Homo sapiens: one gene and its partners. The protein of the gene in region 3 interacts with the protein of the main gene of each other region in a pairwise test. Each region holds a gene or a part of one and is shown on either strand. Other genes may lie near its edges. The genes, in order: URI1, ZMYND19 and GTF2F2.

The links.
Region 1: the proteins of GTF2F2 (region 3) and URI1 interact in binary tests that used the Homo sapiens proteins (3 or more experiments, as listed by UniProt).
Region 2: the proteins of GTF2F2 (region 3) and ZMYND19 interact in binary tests that used the Homo sapiens proteins (3 or more experiments, as listed by UniProt).

Annotation. Positions count from the first base shown.
Region 1 is NC_000019.10:30,000,566-30,009,064, reverse strand, and holds part of URI1 (unconventional prefoldin RPB5 interactor 1), read right to left. Parts: intron 3,705-8,499; coding exon 3,613-3,704; intron 3,415-3,612; coding exon 3,357-3,414; intron 1,596-3,356; coding exon 1,427-1,595; intron 61-1,426; coding exon 1-60. UniProt on the Homo sapiens protein: Involved in gene transcription regulation. Acts as a transcriptional repressor in concert with the corepressor UXT to regulate androgen receptor (AR) transcription.
Region 2 is NC_000009.12:137,581,581-137,589,011, forward strand, and holds the end of ZMYND19 (zinc finger MYND domain-containing protein 19), read right to left. Parts: intron 7,139-7,431; coding exon 7,079-7,138; intron 6,244-7,078; coding exon 6,137-6,243; intron 5,528-6,136; coding exon 5,387-5,527; intron 1,584-5,386; coding exon 1,403-1,583; intron 1,107-1,402; coding exon 963-1,106; 3' UTR 501-962; downstream 1-500. UniProt on the Homo sapiens protein: May be involved as a regulatory molecule in GPR24/MCH-R1 signaling.
Region 3 is NC_000013.11:45,277,131-45,285,629, reverse strand, and holds the end of GTF2F2 (general transcription factor IIF subunit 2), read right to left. Parts: intron 2,189-8,499; coding exon 2,069-2,188; 3' UTR 737-2,068; downstream 1-736. UniProt on the Homo sapiens protein: TFIIF is a general transcription initiation factor that binds to RNA polymerase II and helps to recruit it to the initiation complex in collaboration with TFIIB.

The DNA of each region.
Region 1 (8,499 bases), on a different chromosome or scaffold from region 3:
TCCTTTTCCTCTTCAGAAGATGTCGTATCTTCTCCATTTGCAATCACAGTATCAGGCTTACTAGCAAGGAAGAAAATTAACAAGATCAAACAAACATACTAGAATTTTACATTATTTAAATTTCCAGTTAGTTTCCATGGGTAAATACTAAGATCTTGAATAAAGTATTTTTAAAACTAGAATTCTAAGTTCAAAAACAAAAAAATGTTTTGAAATAAATTAACAAAAAACAGTTCCTATGCTGCTTCTATATATTGAGGTTATTCAGACATAAGTAGAATATAGAAGATAATTTTTTTATCTTTGCAAGAAAGATATTGGCCATATGCAATATAAATATAGTATCAATAATAATAAAGTTGTAAGAAATTCAGAGAACATTTATCTCTAAAGACCAGAAATTGAAACCACATAATACACACTTATTTTCTACTCCTATACTCAGAATATTTTACAATGAGCATGTATTATTGTAATTTTTAAAAATAAAGGATTTATACATATGCACACGAATATATCTATATGCATGAGTGAACATTTATCATACTTGATTCTATAAAAGATGTGAGGACCTTACAAAAATAACAAAATTGAAAATGCAACAGAACTGAAATAACATCATACAAAAAATAGAAAGAGAATCATGACCAAGAAAAATCACAAGATCCAAAACTGGTTTTAAAAAATGAATAGTATTAGTTAATCAAAAAGACCTAAGAATTTATAGGTGAAACACTAGGAAAAAGAAACTTTTATGCTTCCTGCCCTATTTTTCACAGAAACTAATTATTGCATATGGTACATCATTTAAGCAAAATAATATAGAACTTCTCGAGTAGCAGATTTCATTTAGCATTTTAACAATTCTAAGTGTGTGCTAATGTGTATTTCAAACAGCAATTTCGTAAAGTTTCTCATACATATAGCTATCTGACCAGATTACAAATTACCTGCTCCAAAGTTTATAAAAGGAAAGCAAGAATAAACATTTTACTGTATCAAATTTAAATTCAAAGTGTATTTTTGTTTTTCACAACACATTCAAAGATAGAGCACTATCCTGGGTGTGGCATAAAAATACTTCATTTAAAATTTAACATTATATATATTAAATCCATGATTATTAAAAGTCAACTATCTGGTATAATTAATTATATAAAATAGGCCATAATAAAAAATGAAGATGTTGATCTTAAGTATTTAAGTACATGTACATGCATGGGAATATGCACAAACACACAATCCTATAAGAAAATATTCCAGAGAATTAATGTTCATCTTGAGGTGAAAGGATTATTGATAATATATTATGCTTCCCTGCATTTTCTTCAATGAACACATATTATTTTATTAATGAAGAAAAAGATTAATGAGGAAATGTGTATAGAAACAAATTATCTTGGAAAGATAATTTGTCATCAAGTACCTATCAAGTTCACCCAGCAATTCTTCCTGTCTCTCTAGTTCTTCAAGTCGAGCCCACAGTTCTTTATCAGCTAGCAAATCCTTGGATTTCACATCATTTGCAATATCTGCTTCAAAAATATCTGAAGTTTTTGGTTTGGAATGCGGTTTATGAGCAATTCGGTGTTTTGCTATTTAGAAAAAGGAAAAGACGTGGCTGTTAATAGCCAACATAAAAAAGGCACAAACCCAGACTTAATGAGACTTTCTTTTGGGGCAAGGGAAATATTGAAACAGAGGGGTCACAATTTTTAAGCCAAACAGAACTCCAAGGATGAATGTCTCTTACAGCCTTGCTACTCAAAGTGTGGTCCATGGATCAACAGCACTGGCGTCCTTGGGGAACACTTCAGAAGTGTAAGCTCTAAGGACACCCTAGACCCACTGAATCAGAATCTGTATTTCAACAAGAGCCCCAGAGAACCTGCATACACATTCAAGGTTGTGAGAAGAGCTTCAAAAATGCATAAGAAATGGCCACAATGCACCCTGGTTATAAGGCGAAATGCAACACATAAATGATAAATTTCCATTTACCATCCTTACTCAAGGAAATCTAGTTACTACAGTAACGTGCAAAAGCCTTGTGACAGGATACTTTAAACTCCAGGGCACTGCCAAGGAATGAGTACCCTACAAGGAAACAACGGCGGCTCATCTCTGTAAAGTTCTATTATCATTTTACATATGAACATCTCTACTTTTTAAACTGCTTCATTTGTAATCTTCATGTGAGGAAAAAAGATGGGTCAAATCTGAACTCAGAGGTATCTGCTTTTCATTTTAAAAAATAGATTATTTTTTAATAAAGCAAATTAAGGCTTTATTTGCTTTATTAAAGCAAAGTAATGGGAAAGTAATGGGAAGAAGTCTAAGATGCGTCCTGTTATGAGATATGGCACTACCAGATGACCTCGAGTCCATCATATATTCAAATTTGCTGCATTGTTGCATACATCTGAAAATATCAAATTATGTTTCACAGCCTTATTCTCTGTAACTATTATTGATAAGACAGTAGTTAACAATTTTTATTTCAGACCTGTAGCGCTCATAATTTGTCACTGGTCACCACAAACAAAAATCTTGTCTTTCTGTTCAACTTTAATATACATATCCTTTATTTCACCTTCTAAAGCCACTTCCTGTTACTTGTGATGTGGCTTCTTTCAACCAGTAAGTTATCTTAAGAGTTCATCACCAAAATATGAGTGCTGAAAGTCAAAACGAATGCTCAGTACATTTGTTTAAGACACTGTACAGTCTTCTACAGTAGCAAATAATAAGCCATCTGTAATACTTTTTACAATTTCACTACCGTTAACACTTTACAACTGACGAAGGAACCATTGGCTTTACAGAAGTAAACCCAAACACATAAGCCAGCCTTGGCAAAAGAAATCTACTGGGTGGAGATGGGAACAACCTGCGCAGGGAAAGCCACTGCAGGCACCATAAGAGGAATGGCTGAAATACACCCACATTCATTCATTCTTCCAAAAACAGCTTACAAAGCTGCAGTTTTAAAAGAAGAAAAACTAGCAAAAGATATCTTAGGACTTCACCATGGTCAGAGAACAAATTAGGAGCAGATCCATGTCTAGAATATACATCTTCTGAGTTTTAGAGGTTTGGAGCACTGGAGAACTTTGGGAGAAAAAAGCCATGTAATCCCACCACTAAAACAGACCAGTCAGGAATCACATTTTTAACCAAAAGTTATTTATCCATTAATGTTTCACATAAAAAAAAATCAATGAGTAGAAAAATGTTGGCATCCTATGAATTTAAAAGTGTATTCTAAATCCCAAATATCTCACAGAAAGCCCACTGAAAATCAACAAAAATCAAAATATCTAAACAGCTACACATAAAACAATCTTACTGCTTACCTTTAAATTCGAAGTCACATTTAATTTCTTCTCGTATGTCAACAATATCACCTGCAGCCTGGTTTTTAAACAAAAAAAAAGCGTATTAACAACACAAATCTCCAGCATACTAAAATTATCCAAAGAGCAACTATTCAACCTAAGATGTCTGAAAGCATTTTAAACTTCAATTAATTTGTTCCTTGGCTGTAAGATAGCTTCATATTTCTTTGAAAATATTTTCTAAAAATATAGAAGACTAAAAACAAATACTCACATCGCTCATTTTCTGCAAATCTTCTGTGAATTCAACTCTGGATTCAAAATTTTTCATCACTTTTTTTAAGTCATCTATTGTTTTTCTTACATCTGAAACAATGAACACAACCATTATGTAAAGCATGGCATATATACGACCTGTAGGAATATTTTAACTGTAGTCCTATCACACTACAAGTATGATTTAACAGTAATGCTTTTCAAAAATCTTACACTATTTTCCTTTTAAATGGACTTTTAATAAGTTATACTGTGTATTTTTGTGCTATATATATAGCACATTACTTTGTTCGTAATAAAATGTCTAACATATTTTCTCTCTATTACAGAGTACAGAACTAGATTGTAGATGCTGCCTGGTGCTACCAGGTTTCTATAGGATAAATATCTAGTTGGATCATCACATAAAATGCAGTATTTCATAACAGTTTTGTTGCACAGGTAATTTTTGTCCAGCTGGATAATGCATAGATAACATAGATTAAGACAAGTTATTCTGTTCCTGAACAGAAAATATTCCTAAATTAGATGACTGAAAATACAACACATTTTTTACGGTATATAATCAACCATTTCCAAGTTAAACTGCATAACAACACAACACACAGCCTTTCAACATCTCCTAAATACCACCCTCTATTAACCTATTTGAGGAAAAATTTTAATTTGAGAATAGACACAAACATTTCTCTACCCAATACTGGACAAATGCAACAAGTAATTCATGTTTCTGTAATCAGAGTAGAAATCTCTGCTAAGCAGTAAATGGCACCATCTAAAAAATACATGGGGTTTCTAACTATAATTATATGCTGAACAATATCCTACTTTTCTCCAAATACAGAATTTTTATGGCCAAGCGCTGATAAAGAATAATAGACAGTGATATGATACCTCCTCCCCCAGATGCTCTGTGATTTCCTACTGTTTTACAACAGGCACTCAATCAGTAAGCAGATCAGAAGAGGATGGAGGAGAAAAGTACATAGTTCTTTCTCTACCAATGATGAATGCAGGTCTGGCAAAGGTCTAAGCAGTTAAAATATCTTTTAAAAGAATGAAAATAAGGAAGGGAGTTAAAAGTGAAATATCACCACATATGAAGGGCTTCTCGAGAGTGGCACATGTTCTCCGATACGGCTCTCATGCTATGCAATGCTATTTTAAATAAAACACAATCACTTATGCTCTAGCCATGAATGGGTTACAAAAAAAAGACTGCATTAACAAAATGAAAATTACGGTGTAAACAGTTCATAAAATCTCACAGCCCTGATGTCGCTCTAGATCATTAAATTTCTGCAACAATTAGACCTTTTCTCACGGCAGCAAATTGGACCGGTTGCCATGGCAAATCTGAGCCCTTAAGTCATATATCTTTGATTGCAGAAAGGTCAGACTCAGACAGCCTAATAACTCAAGGAGCTGTTTGACAGATTTCATCCGAGCATGGTCACATAACAGCATAAAACTATGTCGGCAGTTGTTAAAAGCAGGGGGTCAGGGAAAAGGTTAAGGTTATGGAATGTTTTTGCTTCAGTAAACTCAGTCAGATAATGTGTCTAACCAGCTTTAGATCTAAAGAACATTATTTTAGGTAGGAGGTCAAATCAATAACTTTTTTCAAGAAGACTGGAAAATATTAAAAATGGCAGGTAGGTAAGCTAAGTACATTTTTAAAAGTCTATCCACATATAAATACTGTGCAACTAAGCTAAAGGTATCAGTGAAAGCCTTGGGTTGTCAATGTGTAAAGAATTGATTGTTCACTGATGTTATAGGAGTTACTTTCAATCAACTATTGTTGACTTTAAAAAAAATTCATCATAACTCACGCATGTAAGAAAAAGTTGTGTGAATATTCCATTTAAGAAACAAAGTGTTTTGGAAATAGGGTAATTATGAAAAACTGAAATACGATTGCACAGTTCCATTTTTAAATTCAAGAAAGCTTTCTGAATCATACATTAATATAAACCACTATCACAAGGTTAAGAAATCAGATCTCAAAAGCATATACTTTATATCAGAATCTCAGAAATACCACAAACTGATAAGCACCAACACCGTCACATACACATTATATATGCAGATATATATCTCTATTAAATTATCATAAGTCCTATGTCCTAGAGCAACAAAAAATTAGATAGCTATACAGAAAATTTAAGACAAGACAAAAGAAAGCTGGGCAACCGCAAGGCAAACGAACCTGGTGCTCACAATAACATAAAATACAGCAGAATGGTAAGCACCTATTTCGATTTTGTACAAAGTAAATAACAAGTCTAAATTCGTATCTACAGGTTGTTTCAAAAGAACAACAGTTAAAAAAGCAGAATGAGAATTTAATTCCATTTCTTTCTATAACTCTGAGATTTAACATTAGAAACCATGCTATTACATTTTTCACTAAAGCTTTTGTACTCTATTCTCCAAAAATTTATTTTAAGAGGTGAAATATACATGTCACTAAAAATGGATCATTTAAACAGACTCAATCAATTTTAACGCTCCAAACATGGCTAAGTTGAAATCTAATTAAGCAAAATTTCAAACCACACTGAAATTATAGCAAATAACACTACTGAGAGAAAAAGAAATATACTTTGTGATATAGACAATATCTGTATTCATTTTAATCTCAAACATTTTAGTTACCAATTATTATAGAAAAAAGAAAACAAATTCAATGGGATCAAAGAAATAGCTGTGAAAATGTACAAAAGACAGTTCTCCACAGATACTTCCCCCCACCCCAAAAAATAAAAACTAAAATTGAAGAAAAAAATTAGTAATTTGAAGGACAGAAGATTGTTTTCAAACACAGGTTATTTTAACTAAAAATCAGAAGTTAAATTTTCTAGGATTTCAGAAGTATAGAATGAGGTATAGTTTTTATTTATTTAGCTGACAAAACCAGGCTGCAGGTTAAATGTGCAGCAAGCATAAGCTAATATTTTAAAGTCTTCACTAATTCAGAATCTTTGTCCAGAACTGGCTGAAATCCTTTGAGTTAGCTATGAAAAAGGAGACTTAAAGCAAATTAACAGTGCAAATTCCAAAGACATGTTTAAACCAAAAAAGAAAATTTAAAACCTCATAAGAACTTAAGCAGTCATTTTCACCTAAAGATAAACGATATGCCTACTCACTAAGTAAGACCAAATATTTAGAAACATTTAGTTAACAGTTTGTAGAATTGTATATATTTGAAAGGAACAGAAATGCAGATGTAATAAAAATTATTTGCAAAACACTAATAAAAGTTATGAACATCATTCGTGAAAGGAGTCTTTTTTACTTAGCCATATATTCATATGTACTGAATAGTATGAAGCCTGTAAATATGCAATTCTCTACTGAATCCTTTGTGACCACTCTATTCTCAACCTCGTTTCTTTTGTGTGCTGGAATTTTTAAATATTCTTTCGACAGCTTCAACAGGACGTGCCCCCTGGTGGAAATACTCACAAACCTCTGGACAGGATGTACTCCTTCTTAAACCAGTACAAAGGTTTGGACTTCTGCTTTAAAATAGCACATTGAATACATGTACTTAGTATTTGCCTTTCCCCTATACCTTAGGTAAAGTAACAACTAAGAAATTTTTAAAGGCATAAACCCATAAAGACAAATACATTTGAAGAGAAAATAGACAAGAAATGTCAACCAAATTTTGGAAACTGCACAACTGATAATGGACTTTGCACAACAGAAAAAAATGGAACCTAACTGTGGCTGGGAAAAGCTACTACAAGTCGATCTGGGATATCGGACCTGGAAAAGGCAATTCACTTGAGAGTATTTCCAAAAGAAGAGTGAACTTTAACCAAAGATCTAGATAAAAGTTTGAAAAGAACAGGTCCCCAAACCCTAATCTCACAAGAAAGGTTTCTCCTTTCTTGCTTAAACAAAAGATTCACAGCTTAGAGTGGTTTGTAGAGATGGTAGGGAATAGGGAAGTGGAAAGAGAATAGAAAATGTCTTAGTGAAACCAGGAGGATTAATTCCAAGTGAACATACTGAACCTTGAAACGCCCAGCCTGGTTCTCAGAACACTAGATGAAGAAGATCAGAAGACTCTTTTGTAGAATCTGCTGATACTTAAAGATTGCTCAATTTAAAAAAAATAAATAAATCAGCTTGCTACCTTAAATCCCTACAAAAAATACCTATCAGTCAACAAACCTTGCCTATGCACACAGAGCTTCCTGACAGTACTCAACGCAAGTATAAATGGTTAGCCAAGGATCACCAGACATTTGAAGAAATTCTTGAACATTAATGCTAGAGACCAAAAAAAGAGAGCAAGAGAGAAAAGAGGGAGAAGAAAAAAGAAACATGGAGGAAATGTTTAAAGATGAAAACTTTAAAAGAAAAAACAAATACTCCTTAAAAAAAGACCCTCCATCCATGAAACAAGAACAGGATGCTGTAACAAAGAAACAGCCAAAGAACAAAAAAAAAGTGCTTCCAGAAATGAAACTATGTACAGGAAAATTTTAAAGTCAATACATGATTTAAAAGAGTATGCAGAAGAAATCACTTCAAAAATTACAACAAGGACAAACAAATAGGCAACAAGAAAAGGAAATTTTCAAATTACTAATATAAATTTCCCACGGCTGGAGGACTTAAGCCTCCACTCAAAAAAGGCCTACTAAGCACTAGCAAACAAATTTTAAAGGATCCATAGCACGGCTTCAAGGTGTACCACTGTTGTATTCCAGATCATGGGGAATAAGGACCAAAAAGGAATCTCAAAGCTTTAAAAACAAAAAAACAAGTTATATACAAAGAAAACGAAAATAGCATCAAGATTTTCAATAGCAACACTTAAAGACAGGAGGTAACAGAATAATGTATCCAAAATTCTGAGGGC
Region 2 (7,431 bases), on a different chromosome or scaffold from region 3:
CAAGATGCTGACCAGCCCCAGACACCTGGGGCTCCCCAAGGAGAGGGAGGGCTATCCTGGAAACCACAGCCCTGCAGACGGACGGAGAAGTGAGACCCTCACCTCACCCTGGCTGGCCAGCCCCCTCCACCATCTGCAGCAGGCCTGCTGAACATGCCCTGTGGATTCTTCTGGGCAGAAGCTCACTGCTGAGCTCCCAGCCACTTCATGCATAAATCAGGCAAGAACTAACCAATGTCAGGGGCGAGAGCATCCTACTCCCCATAAAACAGCGGGCAGCTGACTTAGCAACCCCACCACTCCTGCCGCAAGACAAGGACAGAGTCTCACTCATACTCCCTGCTGGACTCAGGAAGGTCTGAGCTCACCCGCTCCTCAGAAGGGCCCACCAGGAACAAGGGTCCTCCTGCCTCACCCACAAGGACTCGGCTCCACTCAAAATGACCTCACCCTAAGCAGCACAAGAGGGAGGCGGAGCAGAGAATGTCCGAGAGGCCAGATGATTCCACCCCTTTACTTTGCCTTTGTGGACACAACTCCCGTGCAGGCCGCGCTCCACGGGGCTCCCGGCGGCCCAGGGGAGAAGCTTCGACAACAGGACAGTTTTTAGTCACGTGGCCTGACCGTTTGCCATTTAAGGATTACAGCAAATGATTCTATTTGTAATTTCTACCCTTCCCATTGCCTCCCCCCCAAAAAAAACTGTACATGAGTTTACAAACATATTAACATATAAATAATGAGAACCGTCCTGGTGGGAGCCTCCTCCGTTGTCTCTGCTGGAGATGAACACTGAGGGGCGCTGTAACCACACAGACTGCCTGTGACATCGGGAGTCTCACGGCAGCTGTCCTGGGCCCGCAGCTGGCTTTTTTGGCACCTCCAGGTTCAACCACCAGTCTGTCTCTGCTGTGCCCAGGGTAGAGCCCGGGGGCTGTGAGTATGTGTGGCTCCCCTGCCCGTCATCGCTCTGGCTCAAGCTCATGCTGGAAGGGACGCTTCCTCTCCCGACAGTGCTTCTTGTGGGCAGGCCAGTCCTTCTGCTGGCACTGGGAGCCGCAGTACCGGGCCACCTGGCAGCGCCCACAGATGTTGAACTCCCGGAGCTGAAATACAGAACACCTGTGGCTTCACCATCATGCCTGGGACGCAGTGTGGGGCAAAGGCTGCGTCTTACGGACAATCTGACGGACCCAGCAAAACACCACGTACCAAGGCTGGAGGGCCTGGGCCCTGGTCAGGCCAGCACAAGGGCAAAGGGAGACCACTCTGGTGGAAAAGCCCAAGAGGTGCTAAGCGGTCTCTGGGGAATGGGACCCCGCGGTGGAGGGCAAGATCCCAAACCAAGGCTGGGCTACAGGGTAGAGGTGCCAGGGACGCGACCGCACTGCAGCACACCCACCTGCTTCTCAATCACTGTGCAGGGAGGGTAGTGGCACTCATAGTAGGTGCAAGAGTTCTCCTCCTCTTCCACTACATCCCCGTTGGCATTATAATACCGGGTCACATTTAGGACAGGAAACTGTTCTTCTATAGGGTCTGTAGGCAGCTGCTGAATTGCAAGCCAATACAAGCTTTGCTCCCTTAAAGAAAGAAGCAGACACTTGAGTGCACTCTGGCCAAACGGGGCCAGCACACAGCAGACGATGCAATGACTCCATAGAGTGCCATCCTGCCCAGGACACCCAGCCCGAGTTTGAGTCTCCTTTGGCCCATCCCTGCTGCATGTGCTTTTCACCACCTGACAGTAAATATTGTGTCTCATCTTCCCACTAACCCGTAAGCATGGCCTCATCTATCACCCTCTCCCCAGCACCTGGGACTGACAGGCACACAGTAGGCAGGAGACAGGGCCCAGGTCAGGCCCCTGTGCAAAGCGAGGCGGCCCCTCTCCTTGCCCTTGACCTGCAGAGGTGCCCATTACTGCCCCGTCGGTCCACTTCCCCTTCCATACCGGGAGCTGCCCTACGTCCGTCTAAAAACTCCTCCTGCTTGAGTAGGCCAGATGCCTACAACGGGAGAGTTCTACCAAGAACGGAGCCTCAAAGGCATGTGCACTGGCTGCTCAGAGGCAAGCGTGGGCAGCCCCAGCCCTGCTGCATCACGGAGTAAAGAAGCTGCATAAACCACCCCACCAACCCCGTTCTCCGAAGCCAGACCCTGAGGAGACTTGGTTAAAACGGGGAAGGATCAGGACATGGGAAGATGTTGGTGAGGTCCCACCAGACAGAGGCAAGTTTCAGACACTGCTGGCTTCTGAAGACAGAACAGGAAAACACCCCTTTGCCAAGAGGCCCCTTTTGTGGGGGCTGAGCTGACACAGTGCCAGGAAAGCAAAGCAATAGCCCAGGCCTGACAAAGACAGGGTGACCCCACCACAAAGAGCCGGACCACAGGGAGGCCACAGACTGGGATCCAGACGGACGCACAGCACCCAGCCAGTCAACAAAGACAGGGTGACCCCACCACAAAGAGCTGGATCACAGGAGGCCACAGACCAGGATCCAGACGGACACACAGCACCCAGCCAGACAGGATGTCAGGCCCACACTGGCCAGCTCTGACTTCTGCTCGGGGCCTGGGGTGCTGACCCAGCACAAGAGGCCCAACACCTGCTGGGTTCTAAAACCCCATGTTGGCAAACCAAAGATGGCTGAGCCTGATCAGTCCTGAGCCACCCCAGGCCCACCTCCTGTAGCAGGGGGTTGTGTAAGGCAGCAGCCCCAGCGCAACTCGTCCTGCTGTGCCCTCAGAGAATGGGCATCCTGCCGTGCCCACAGAGAATGGGCTGACCAGGAGCATCAGCCCAACACCCCCTTTCCAAACGGCTGTTCTTAACGGCAGTTATCTCCTCTCCTGATTATAAAGGGTGCTGAGAGGATTCAAGGTAACATTCAGTCACAGGCTGGCCGGACCCTGAGTCTTGTTGAGAACCGGCTGAAATGACCCGCACCATGGCAGGGACAGAAGGCATTGCCAGGTGGAGTGGTGAGCAGCGGGCGAACTTGCGGAGTTGGGAAGGGCCCATCCCAGCATCAACACTGAGCATGTATCAATGTGGGACAACGCAGGAGGAGATGCTACAGATGCTGCTCTGCCTGCCAAGCACGCCTTCCCCTTCCCCTTCCCTTTTCATGTAGAAAAGTGATTCTAAGCAAGCTAACTACAGTTCATCCCAGGGCTTCCCCAGACACCACTAGAACAGGGTGCCTGCTTCAGTCCGCAAGTGCTAGGTAGTGCCCATGCCGCCTCCCAGAGAGGAGCCGGGAGTGGGGGCGCAGAGCTGGAGGCAGCAGCATCCCTGGCTCTCCACATTTCAGTCAGGATACCAAAATGTACCCTATTTTTGTTTCAGCCAAATTGACCTTTGTTTCTGTTTCTTGCAACCCAAAGTTCCAACTAACATAATCCCCGAAAGAATAAAAACCCCATTCAACAATCGTAAGAGGCCTGGCTTCACTCACAAGCAGTATGAGGAAGGTCAAAACTCTAATATTAGAGCAAGGACCGGGCGTGGTGGTGCACACCCGTAATCCCAGCTACTCAAGAGGCTGAAGCGGGGCCAGGCGTGGTGGCTCACGCCTGTAATCCCAGCACTTTGGGAGGCTGAGGCAGGCGGATCACCTGAGGTCAGGAGTTCAAGACCAGCCTGGCCAACATGGCAAAATCCCACCTCTACTAAAAATACAAAAATTAGCCAGGCGTGGTGGTGGGCACCTGTAACCCCAGCTACTAGGAAGACTGGGGCAGAATTGCTTGAACTGGGCAGGCAGAAGCTACAGCGAGCCAAGGTCGCGCTACTCCAGCCTAGGCAACAGAGCCAGACTCCGTCTCAAAAAAAAAAAAAAAAAAAAATGCTGAGGCAAGAGGATTCCCTGAAGCCAGGAGTTCAAGAACAGCCTGGGCAACATAGTGAGACCCATCCGTAAAATTAATTAATTTAATGAAATAAACAGAGCAGGGAAAAAAAAACACCAGCCCAACAAGAACGAAAGACACTTCAGGCTCTGCCTTCGTCCTGAGAGGCCCAGTGAGGAAGGGATGGGGGGGGATTTGTAGGACTCCCTCCAGGGTGGCAGGAACAGCAGTTTGGGAGTGGCATTTTGGAGGCCTGGGGACTGTCCCCACATCACCAACCAGTGTGTCAGGTGCTCCCACTGTTTCCACCTCGGCTGCCCAGGGCTCTGGCATGACTCTGAGGTGACAACTGCAAAGATTCTACCCACAGCCACCAACCATCACCAAGCCCGAAACACTAAACCTTACCAGCGTTGCTGACAACCATCTGCTAGGGCAGTTCGCACTGCCTGCACCAGGAAAGGCTGCCCAGAGGCTTGAGGACGTGCCCAAAAGCCCCAGGGCGCCAGGGGAACATGTCAGTGAAGCGTGTGTGGCTGGGGACTCCCTGGCTCAACTGGGCTCCCAACCCCTATCCTGCTGGTCCCTTGGCTCTTCCCAAGGGCTCCATGAAGTTCACAGACTGGCTGGTTCTAGGGCCAGCAGGAACCGCCCTCCCAGGTGGGAAGCCCATGCAAAGCACTGCTTTCAGGATCACAGGCAGGTCGGGGGCCGAGGGCTGAGCCCTGAACCATTCTCCGCTTTAAACCTTTGCTTAAGGAAAACTGTTTAGCAAAAGAACACAACAAAAAGACCCATCTGTGTGCACAGAAAAGAATCCTGAGGTGAGGAGAGAAGGAAGGAATCCTGAGGTGAGCAGAGAAGGAAGGAATCCTGAGGTGAGCAGAGAAGGAAGGAATCCTGAGGTGAGCAGAGAAGGAAGGAATCCTGAGGTGAGCAGAGAAGGAAGGAATCCTGAGGTGAGGAGAGAAGGAAGGAATCCTGACGTGAGCAGAGAAGGAAGGAATCCCGAGGTGAGGAGAGAAGGAAGGAATCCCGAGGTGAGAGAAGGAAGGAATCCCGAGGTGAGAGAAGGAAGGAATCCTGAGGTGAGAGAAGGAAGGAATCCTGAGGTGAGAGAAGGAAGGAATCCTGAGGTGAGCAGAGAAGGAAGGAATCCTGAGGTGAGGAGAGAAGGCTGATGCCTCCCAGGGGTGTGGGGCAGAAGCCCTGCTCACACCGAGTCCCGACGCTGGCCCTGCCCTGGAGCAGGCAGCCCTTCTCCCCACTGTCATGCCAGCTAAAGGGAGGTTCCCAGAGCCAATTATAAGAGGAGCAATGCAAAAACACACACCATCAAGATCCTTCCCGCTCCCATGAAGAAAAGGAGGATTCCACGCTTTGGGGAAAAACAATGAAATTCCCAAAATACACAGAAGCATCAGGGCTCAGAGGAGGAACAGGAGACCCTCTTGGAAACAAGAGCTTTGGCGGTGGCCCTCCTCAAAAGGCGCCTCTGCTGGCATCGCCAGGCCCTGAGAAGACCCACCTCTGCTTGCTGGAGGTCTCTTCAGCCTTGGGCCGCCAGCCCCACGGCACCAGTTGCAGGTTGTCCAGGCGATTGTCCACGGTCACAGCGTTGAGGTGCACCACCTGGAAGCCCGGGGCCACGCCCCCCCGGTGCCGCTCCCTAGAAACAGACAGCAAACCCTGCATCTAACCCTGCATCGCTGCCTCCCACCCTCACAGACATTTCTGGTCAGGTACCAAAGTCCTTCCAGGAAGAAATGTCAGCCATGTGATCTGATCGGGCCCCTGGTCCTTTGGATGAGGGTACCTCAGGCGGAAGCTGCTGAGAGAAACCCAAGCACCTGATCTGTGGCCCAAACAGGACAGGGACACAGGGAGGACCCGGCCCCTGGACTTCAGAGCACAGACAGCCAAAGCTGGAACGCAAAACCACCTAAGCAGATGGCCTCGAGACAGCTCCCCATCTGAGTGGTCCCTACCATGCACACCGGGGGGGCTCGGCAAAACCCAGCAAGGGGAGCAACCACCGTCCCTCCAGAGGCTGCCGGTCCTGGGCAAGCTCCCAGCAGAAAGTCCACTTGGTGTTTGAAGTGCAACATACAAATCATTCGTTCCTTTGGGTTAGTGGTGAAGGACACAAAAATAACTGCGAGATTCAGGGAAGGCAAGGCAGGGCTTCAGCGGGGCAGGGGGCTCCAGGCGCCCTGTGCCATCGGAGCTCACCCAGGAGCCCAGTGGCGGGGGGCAGAGACAGCTTGGAAACACCCACCACAGCAGCTCATGAAGGAGTCTCCCAGAGCCCCTTCCTCGGTTCTTGTCAAAGGCATAGGCAAATATCTTAGCACCATTTCCATCTGCATCCACTTCCATTCGGGCCTGAGAAGGAACAAGGGAAAGAGCTGTTAAAAAACCTCCAATTCTCAGCAACACTTCAATTCCCTCTTAGAAAAACCAAGTGAAACAAGCAAGCCAGAGGGACAAATGCCAGCCCTGTCCCTGAGACCCTGGGGAGTGCAGAGCTTCCCACAGGCACATGGCTCCCAGGGGCCAGCGTGGCCCACCACCACTCTGTCTATTCGAGCAAGAAACACTCACAAACAACTCTGCAAAATACAATGGGACATAGACAAATACATTTTCCTACCCTTAAAAAAAGCCCACGGTGCAGTGAGATAGAGAACCCCCTGGAGAGGTCACTACTGTGAATGTGTGGGGCACAGAGATAAAGGATGGTGAGGGAGGCCAAGCTCAGCGGCAGGAATGGAAGCTGGGAAGAGGCAGGAAGACCCCATGAGAGCAGAGAACGGGAGGCAGCTGGGCAGCCAGGAGGGACTGCTAAGGCAGGCCCAGCAGAGGTGGCTAGCTCTAAAGAGCAGGGTCTTCGAGCTAACAGACATGGTCCACGTGACACAATCACAAACATGAGAACATTCCATTTGCTTTCAAGAGGAGCTGGCAGCTGGGGTGAAAGTGAGGAAGACCACTGTCGCCAGGCCATGTGGGCCACAGTGGGCTCCAGTGGCAGCAACAGCCAGGTTCTGCAGGGCCACGGCTCGAAGTGGGGCTGACGGCTCAGGGCTCACAGGCCAGCACCAGTTGTCCACTTGTGGGGCCGCCTGCTCTTGCAGCACAGGGGAGAGAGCTCGTTCCTCGTGACCCTCCTGGGCACTGACCACGAGCATCAGGGGAGGGAACAGCCATCCTTACTTACCTCAAAGGAGTAGCTCTCCACCAGCGGGATGTCCTGCTCATCGATCAGCGTGTATTTGGTCTGGAAGTTAACCACATGTTTCAAATCATTACATTTGGGATCTGCGTGAGGTGCAGTAACCTTATAACCAGAACAGGCAGGAGCCTGTTGCATTTTCCTGTGAAGTGGAAAGTAACTACAGGCCTCTTCAGACCAAGACAGCTCAGCACATGGGGGCCTCATTCCACCGTTTGGGGTGGTGCAGTCTACGACAAAACACAGGCAGACAGGTTAAAAGCCAGCTGCCCACTTTAGTCTGCGCCAGAGGAGCTGGTATCAGGCTTCATCCTCGCAGGGCTAACCCCAACAGTGGC
Region 3 (8,499 bases):
CAAGACCAGCCTGGCCAACAAGGTGAAACCCCGTCTCTACTAAAAATGCGAACATTAGCCGGGTGTGGTGGCATGCGCCTGTAATCCCAGCTGCTTGGGAGGCTGAGGCAGAAGAATCGCTTGAACCTGGGAGACAGAGGTGGCAGTGAGCCAAGATCACACCACCACCGCACTCCAGCCTGGGCAACAGAGAGCAAGACTCTGTCTCAAAAACAAACAAACAAACAAACAAAAACGTAATCAGAAACAGCATCAGTCTAGCACCTAAATTATGTATCCTACTGAAGAGATAAGTGTTTAAGAGACTCAAGCTCATGCAATCAGGTGTGCTGAGGTAACAGGCAACTAAAAGAAGCAGAAAAAACCAGTTTACAAAAAAACCAAAGCACAGCTTCAAATAAGACACAGCTCTGCCCTGGGAACTCTTGTGGCACAGCCACCTCGTTCAATATGGCAGGCACTGTCCCCAAAACAAAAGACATCAGCAGAGGAGACACAGTCTGTTTCAGGGCAGTACCAAATATATAAAAAAACAAGGTTTTGGGGAAGATACATGCTATGAACCAAGCACATGGCAGGTATCCAGAATCCTCAGTTCTATATAGATTTATCAGACCATTATCCACGGGCTTCCTGACACAGAGCTTCCAGTCATCAGGAACTAGAAGGTGATGGGCATACCACATTTGGTGCCTGTACATAAGAAAATCTGAGGTGGAGTGGGGAATGGGAACACTTTCTTTACTCAGAATTTTATTTTTCAGTGTGTACACAGAATAAAAATCTTCTTAGTGCTATAACAATCTCAGAATTCTAATGCTTTGCTGCTAAAAGCAAATAATATAAAAATTGTTTTTCTCAATGGATAGATATCTTCTTGCTTTAATTATATAATATTTTCTTCAATTTTTGGCATTGCTCCTTCCTTATTTTTATTATTTTTTCTCTTTTTTTCCTGCAAACACTATGGCAACTTGGGCATTTGCTACTTCTTGATTGCAGCATCTAGAAGCAGATGACAAAATGAACGAGTGAAAAAACAACTTTTCCCTGTGCTTAGTTCACTTAAGCTTCTTTGTTTTGTTTGATGGTCTTGACAGTATGATTTTGGATCGCTTAATATATAATATTGTGTTGTGCTAGAAAAAACTAACATATACATGTATTGTTTTCATTTAAAAATTAATTAAAGAGAAAGAGAAAAGCAACATTTTAATGCCCCAGGAATTGAAACTAACGTTTTCTGTCTCGGCTGGACCCCTACGCCCATCTTTTGATTTGCTGATATCATTTGCCATGTGATGGTCAATACATGTCTGCTGGGTAAGCAGTAAAATTCTGGGGGCAAGCCAGTTTTGAGAAGCTTATAATCTGACTGGGGGAGACATATCTTCAAATTTTGGAAAGATATTTAATTTCTAATTATCTTAAAAGCAAATAAAAGAAACATCAACTGACCATGATCCTGCACATTTCTCATCTCAGCATCACTACGGTAAAATAAGCCAATGATGAACACTGCCATTTCACTACAAACTCTCTCCTTTTATTAACGTTGAGTATGAACACGAAACGTGATCACCTGTTTAAAAGAAAAACACCGCTTTGTTCTTTGACAATTTCAAAATAAGGAACTTTGGGTTTTTATTCCTTTTAAGAGTTTCTGTAGTTGACTGTTTTTTTCTTGCTATACAATTCTCCTTGGATCTGTATTACCTCAGCTCCTTAGATACGGCAAGGGTAGAGAGTCCTCACTTAAAAAAATTTCCTAATTGTACACATTAAAAGCTAATATTTAAGAAAAACCCTCTTAATCCTCCAACCCCTATTCCTACTGTGAATAATCTGGTTTAATACAAGTTAAGTCTATAAATAAATCTGTTCTTTCTCCTCAAAAAAACAGTTAAGAAACTTTACAAGAATTACAGGTTTAAAAAATTTACCGAGAGAAATCAAAGTACTGTCACTTAACCCCTATTAACATACGGTGTTCAAGCCTTCCAGTATCAGCGCCTTTTGCATAGCATCGCTGCTAGTCGTTTCACTAGCATGCTGGCTAGGAGTCTTCTTAGTCACTCTTTTCTTCTCCTTGATAGTGTCTGTACTCTGGCTTCAGCTCCCATGTGTTTTTGTGGATCCCTTTTACATTCTGAACACCAATTTCTTTTAAGATTTCCTTCAGGTACACCTAAAACAAAAACAAAACCCCTAACAAATGAGATTATAAATGCAGGGGACAAAACTTAAAATAAGATGATATGCCAAAGCACATATGCAAGCCATAAAAATTATGATCCTAAAAGCTCAGCAAGATTTCTCTATAAGGAGGTTCAATAAACTGCCTTTTGATTCTACATGTGCGACATGGTAACTGCACTAAATATATGATCATGTGCATTAAAGGAGTTGAAAGTCCTGAATGCCAACAACTTAAAAGCTAAAACAAACAAACAAAAAAAACACAAAAAACACTACATGAAATACACGAAAAAATTACTGGTCCTCACTCAGTGTGACACGGTACACCAAGGGTAATCTGCCCTTGAGTTCAGTGGCCTCATGGGACTCAGTTCACAGATTGAAACCAGTAGTTTCAGGAGCAGTAGCATATAAAAAAAATGAGCAACATTTTTGAGAATATTCTATCAAGCAGGCATATGACAGGTATTCAGAATTCTCAGTTCTAAGGTGAGTTCTCAAATTTGTTTTTAGGCCACCCACTTATTTTTTCCTATGTGAGAAGGAGAGTTGTTATTTGTATTTACTACTATTTGTACTTTAGCCAAGCTTGCCAACACAGATAAGGGAGTAAGAAGTGATAATAAGGCCGGGCTTGGTGGCTCACGCCTGTAATCCCAACACTTTGGGAGGCTGAAGTGGGCAGATCACCTAAGGTCAGGAGTTCGAGACCAGCCTGGCCAACATGGTGAAACCCCGTCTCTACTAAAAATACAAAAATTAGCCAGGCATGGTGGTGGGAACCTGTAATCCCAGCTACTAGAGAGACTGAGGCAGGAGAATCACTTGAACCCAGGAGGCAGAGGTTGCAGTGAGCTGAGACTGTGCCATTGCACTCTAGCCTGGGCAACAACAGTGAAACTCTGTCTCAAAAAACAAATAAATAAATAAAGTGATAAGAAGACATCCCCTAAAACTATCAGGGATGCAGCCTTGTGTTTGGCTTCTCCAAAGAAAAGAGTCATATTATGGTGTTTTAGGTCCCTAAAAATTCAATAAACATTTACTAAATGATTACTATGGTCATGGAAATGATGGCTATGTTAAGTGTAATATGAAACTAGACCTTTGCTTGCCAATGCTGAAGGCCAAAAAGCATTCCACAATAAGCTGACCAATATAAATTACAGAATTTCCTTCTTGGAGAAGAAAGGAAAGATAATAATATTAATTATTATTATCATTATTATTTTGAGATGGAGTTTTGCTCTTGTTGCCCAAGCTGGAGTGCAGTGGCATGATCTCGGCTCTCTGCAACCTCCGCCTCCCAGGTTCAAGCGATTCTCCTGCCTCCTCCCAAGTAGCTGGGATTACAGGCGCATGCCACCACGCCCAGCTAAATTTTTTGTATTTTTAGTAGAGATGGGGTTTCACCATGTTGGCCAGGCTGGTCTCGAACTCCTGTCCTCAGGTGATCCACCCACTTCGGCCTCCCAAAGTGCTGGGATTACAGGCCTGAGCCACTGCACCCAGCCAAGATAATTATTTAAAAGCGACTCTTTTGTTGTTGTTGCAGAACAAAGCAATCCAACAATAATTTGTGTGCGTGTGCTTCAAAGAACTAGTTACGGTATGATGATGACTCATCCCATTGATGGAAGATGTAATTTTTCTTATTGATTGAAGTGAGGCATTAATAAGAAAAATGGCTGAGAAGCTCTTGTCTGTATATTTAAGGTAGTGCTTTTCTCTAGCATGGTGCTAGACCACCTGCATCAGAACCCTGTGGGGAGCTTGTTAAATGAGACACAGCTTGGGCCTACTGAATCAAAGTCTCTTGGGCTAGGCCCAGGAATCTGCATTTTAACAAGTGCCTAGGCGACTCATGTAACTATATACTAAAGTTCCACCACATCTGGCTTAAGGTTCTTCCAGTTCTGATACTCTAGGATCTTTGAGTCCTTAGTGTGTTGCTTCGTTCTCTGAGCCTCATGTTTGCTGTAGAGTACGTGTTACCAACATAATCTAATGCCACTTTACACTGACTGATATAATGCTCTAGAGTTCATAAAGTCCTTTTAGTTAGGGGTAGGTTGTCACCTAGAAACATAATAGCTGATTAGTACTGGAAGTATACAGAGGTTCCTTCAGGATGGCTCAGCTCTCTCGTGGGCAGCCTTCCCATGCCAGCAGCCAAGCCCCAGCAGATGGCAGCAATGAACCAAATGAGCCCTGGGTTCCCCCGAGGCTTGCCTACCTCCCACACCTTATACAGTTGGCTTCACTAGCAGACCCGTGTGAATGAGTAAGCATAAAGGCTTGAGATATCTAGGTAATATAAAATGCAAGTCTGCCACCTGCTATTTCAAATTACATTTAAAAAACAGGACACTGTTCATAAACTACTTTCTAATTGAACAGGATTCATAAATGGAAAATGATTGGTTAGGCACAAATGATTCTCTGTTTAGGTGCCAAGAATGACATCTTTGTAAAATTCCAAAGAATGGTTTATTATGAGACTGGCTAAGACGATGTTGCACAAACAACCATACAATTGTGGATGCACTGCAATGGGTCAAAAATGAAAAGAACAATTGCCAGGAGCATTTTAGTAGCTCCATAGAAAAGAAGCTCTCCTGACTTCAAGTCTAGTGTGCCCATTTATAATCTAGGCCCAGAAAATGAAAATCCTAAAAAGGGTTAAACAAAAAATATTAATAAAGTCTGAAGTGTACAAATTCAGTTGTTTTCATGTCCACCCTCATTTTGGCAATCTAGTAGAACATATGGAATTCTTTTTATAAACGAAGGTGTCATTCTTTTTTCCTTGTAACAATAAGAATGGAATGAGATGACCATAGTCAGTCAATTTCTCAAGCAACAAAATGCAATCAGGGTCACAATGTACTGTGATCAGGGGGTAGGGGACACAAACTTCCTGATTTTTAGGATGTTCTAAACTGCAACCTAAGACCATTTTACTCTAATCAAATAAATTAGCTTGGCAGGGAAGTAGGTATAAAACATTAGCAGAGAAAGTAGTAGTGACGATAGGGAAAAACAAGGTCTCTGAAGGGAAAATCTCTAAAGGGAAGACATGGACAGAGAACAGAAAGAGCACATGTCCTTCCTCTGTCTAAAATATTCTAATGACTTCCCCGTTTGGGCTACACATTAAATTCCAAACGCCTTTGTAGGCATCCACTCAGGTCTGCCTTCTCCCTTTAGCCTCATCTTCCAACACTCCCCCTCACGCATGCTTCCCATTTCTGCATCTGCGTGCTTCTGGGTTTTTCCCATATGTTGTTTCCCTTCCTTGTAACGTTTATCTCCTTTCCTCAAATCTGGACCCCTCATTCTTTAAGACTAGGCTCAAATGTTACTTTCTCAGAGAAACTTTCTCTAACAGCCTTACCTTAGATTTACATTTCACACCGCACAACCTTCGATGGTAGCTCTTATTATATTATAATCCTTTATTTATATGCCTTGCTCTCCTCTTAAATCACATGCTCCTTTTTTGGGGGGGGCGGGGGGACGGTGGGAACAGAGTTTCACTCTCGTTGCCCAGGCTGGAGTGCAATGGCATGATCTTGGCTCACTGCAACTTTTGCCTACTGGGTTCAAGTGATTCGCCTGCCTCAGCCTCCCGAGTAGCTGGGATTACAGGCATGTGACACCACGCCTGGCTAATTTTGTATTTTTAGGAGAGACGGAGTTTCTCCATGTTGGCCAGGCTGGTCTTGAACTGCTGACCTCGTGATCCACCCGCCTCGGCCTCCCAAAGCGCTAGGATTACAGGCATGAGCCACCGCGCCCGGCCACATGCTCCTGTTATAGTGCCTGCGTGCACATCACAGAGACTCAGTGTACTTATGCAAAGTGAATAAGGCGTGCTTAAGACTAACAAGGCAGCTAAGAGGACTGCTGGGTGGTGGTGGGGATATCACTAAGAAGGTCCATAAAAATAGACCATTCAAATTCTAGTTCAGTTTTAGAACTCAAGCAGTGATCTAGTTTGAGAAACAAAGTTTACTGACTAAACTGTACTACGTGAATTTGAATGTCACTTATTACTAAAATCTGCATTTTAGTGCTAAAATATTGTTGGTGACAGAGCCAACTGAAGAAGAGGTTTTAAAGGTTCTACCAGGATTGAAAATTACTTGGTAATCTTATTTCTCTTTTTAACATTCATATATTCACTCAAACATTTATTCCAGCACCTACAATGTGCCAGGTGGAATGGTAGACACTCAGTCTTCCTCTCAGAGTTCACAGTTTAAGATTAGTGCAGAGGATGGGGGCAAAGAAAAAGGCATATTACGCCGGGTGTGATGGCTCACGCCTGTAATCCCAGCACTTTGGGAGGCTGAGGCGGGTGGATCACCTGAGGTCAGGAATTCAAGACCAGCCGGCCAACATGGAGAAACCTCGTCTCTACCAAAATTACAAAAATTAGCTGGGCGTGGTGGCAGGCCCCTGTAGTCCCAGCTATTCAGGAGGCTGAGGCAGGATAATCACTTAAACCCAGGAGGTGGAGGTTGTAGTGAGCTGAGATCGCACCACTGTACTCCAGCATGGGCAACAGAGCAAGATTCCACCTCAAAAAAAAAAAAAAAAAAAAAAAAAGAAAAAGAAAAAGGCAAATTGGCAGGTAATCAGAAAATATAACAGAGGCATGTGTACAGGGTATTATGAGACCACTGAGAAGGGGGCACCTAACACAGCCCGCATAGAGATGTTAGGTTCTTTGAGGATAGATATTTGATCATTCGATTTGAACAGCAATTCTGTGTAGAGATCTAGAGAAAGGAGTTCTCCTCCTCTTACTTAAACACTGAGTGACTTTCCAATTAAATCTTTTGTCTAACCACCTGTATTTGAAACAGAGGATTCTAGAACTGAGTAGATCACTTTTATGTCACATAGGATTGGGGATATGTCTTATTACAGACTATGTGCCAAGCTGCAGCACAAGATCTGAATAAACTGGCTCAGGTCCAGCAATTCTTCATCAAAAGGATGTGTGGGAGAGAATTTACGGCAAGTCTGAATGCAGAGAAATAAGGGATAGAACATCACAGCTTTCTTGGAAGGAAATGGCAAGGCACATACTTGATCAAAGAGGTCAAGTGATTAGGATGTTTGTTTGCATTTGTGGGTCAAGTTAAAACTGCGGTGGGCAAAAAGCCAGAAGTCCATGGATCAACATCCTAATTGGCCCCCAAGACTGAGACAAACCTATAGTCATAAGGCACAGTAGCCTATTATTTTAGTCTTTTGCTCCTTCCTTCCGTCCCTCCACCCCCTACCATTTCTCATATCATCTTTTCTTCTCCTGCTCTGTCAAACAAATGGAGGACTTAATCTGCATTTCATCTTATCATGCATTTCAGTGATAAGCATAATAATAAATCAATTATATCTAAATTTGTAGATGTTCATTAAAAACATACACCTTTGACAGGGAGATGATCACCAACTACTAATGCTTTAAGTAAGTTAACAATATGACCCTGTTAGTCTTCCAGTCACAAAATCTTCCCAAAATGGTGAGACTGAATATTCAATATGCAAACTTACACTGATGATGGCACTGATTAATGCAGCTGACAAAGGAAAATGCACTATATGCTTTTTATAAAGTGATCCAACCACAAGAAGGGCATTATCGATTCTGTGATAATTTCAAAGTATCATTTCATCTTTACATGATTTTTGTGTGAATGACTGCAACTCCTTTAAGAGATATCAACAGAATGAAAACTTACTGATGAAGATGTTAGTGACTTCAAGGCAAAACATTCTTCTGTTAAAATATAAACTACACATTAGGAAGAAACTGTGATCAAACGTGATATAGTTTGGATGTGTGTCCTCATGAAAATATCATATTGAAATGTAATCCCCAGTGTTGGAGGTGAGGCCTGGGGAGAGGTGATTGGATCATGGGGACGGAACTCTCATGAATTAGCACCATCCCTCTGGGTACTATCCTCGAGATAGTGAGTGAGTTCTCTTGCCATCTAGTCGTTTAAAAGTGTGTAGCATGTCCTGCCTCACTCTCTCACTCCTGCTTTTGCCATGTGACATGCTTCCACCATGACTGTGAGTTTCCTGTGGCCTACCCAGAAGCTGAGCAGATGCCAGCATCATACTTCCCGTACAGCCTGCAGAACCATGAGCCAATTAAATCTCTTCTTTATAAATTACCCAGTCTCAGGTATTTTGTTAGAGCAATGCAAGAATGGCCTAATACAGAAAATGCAACAGACATTTTCCCTCATTTAGAGGAAAGGCGATGCTAGGAAACTT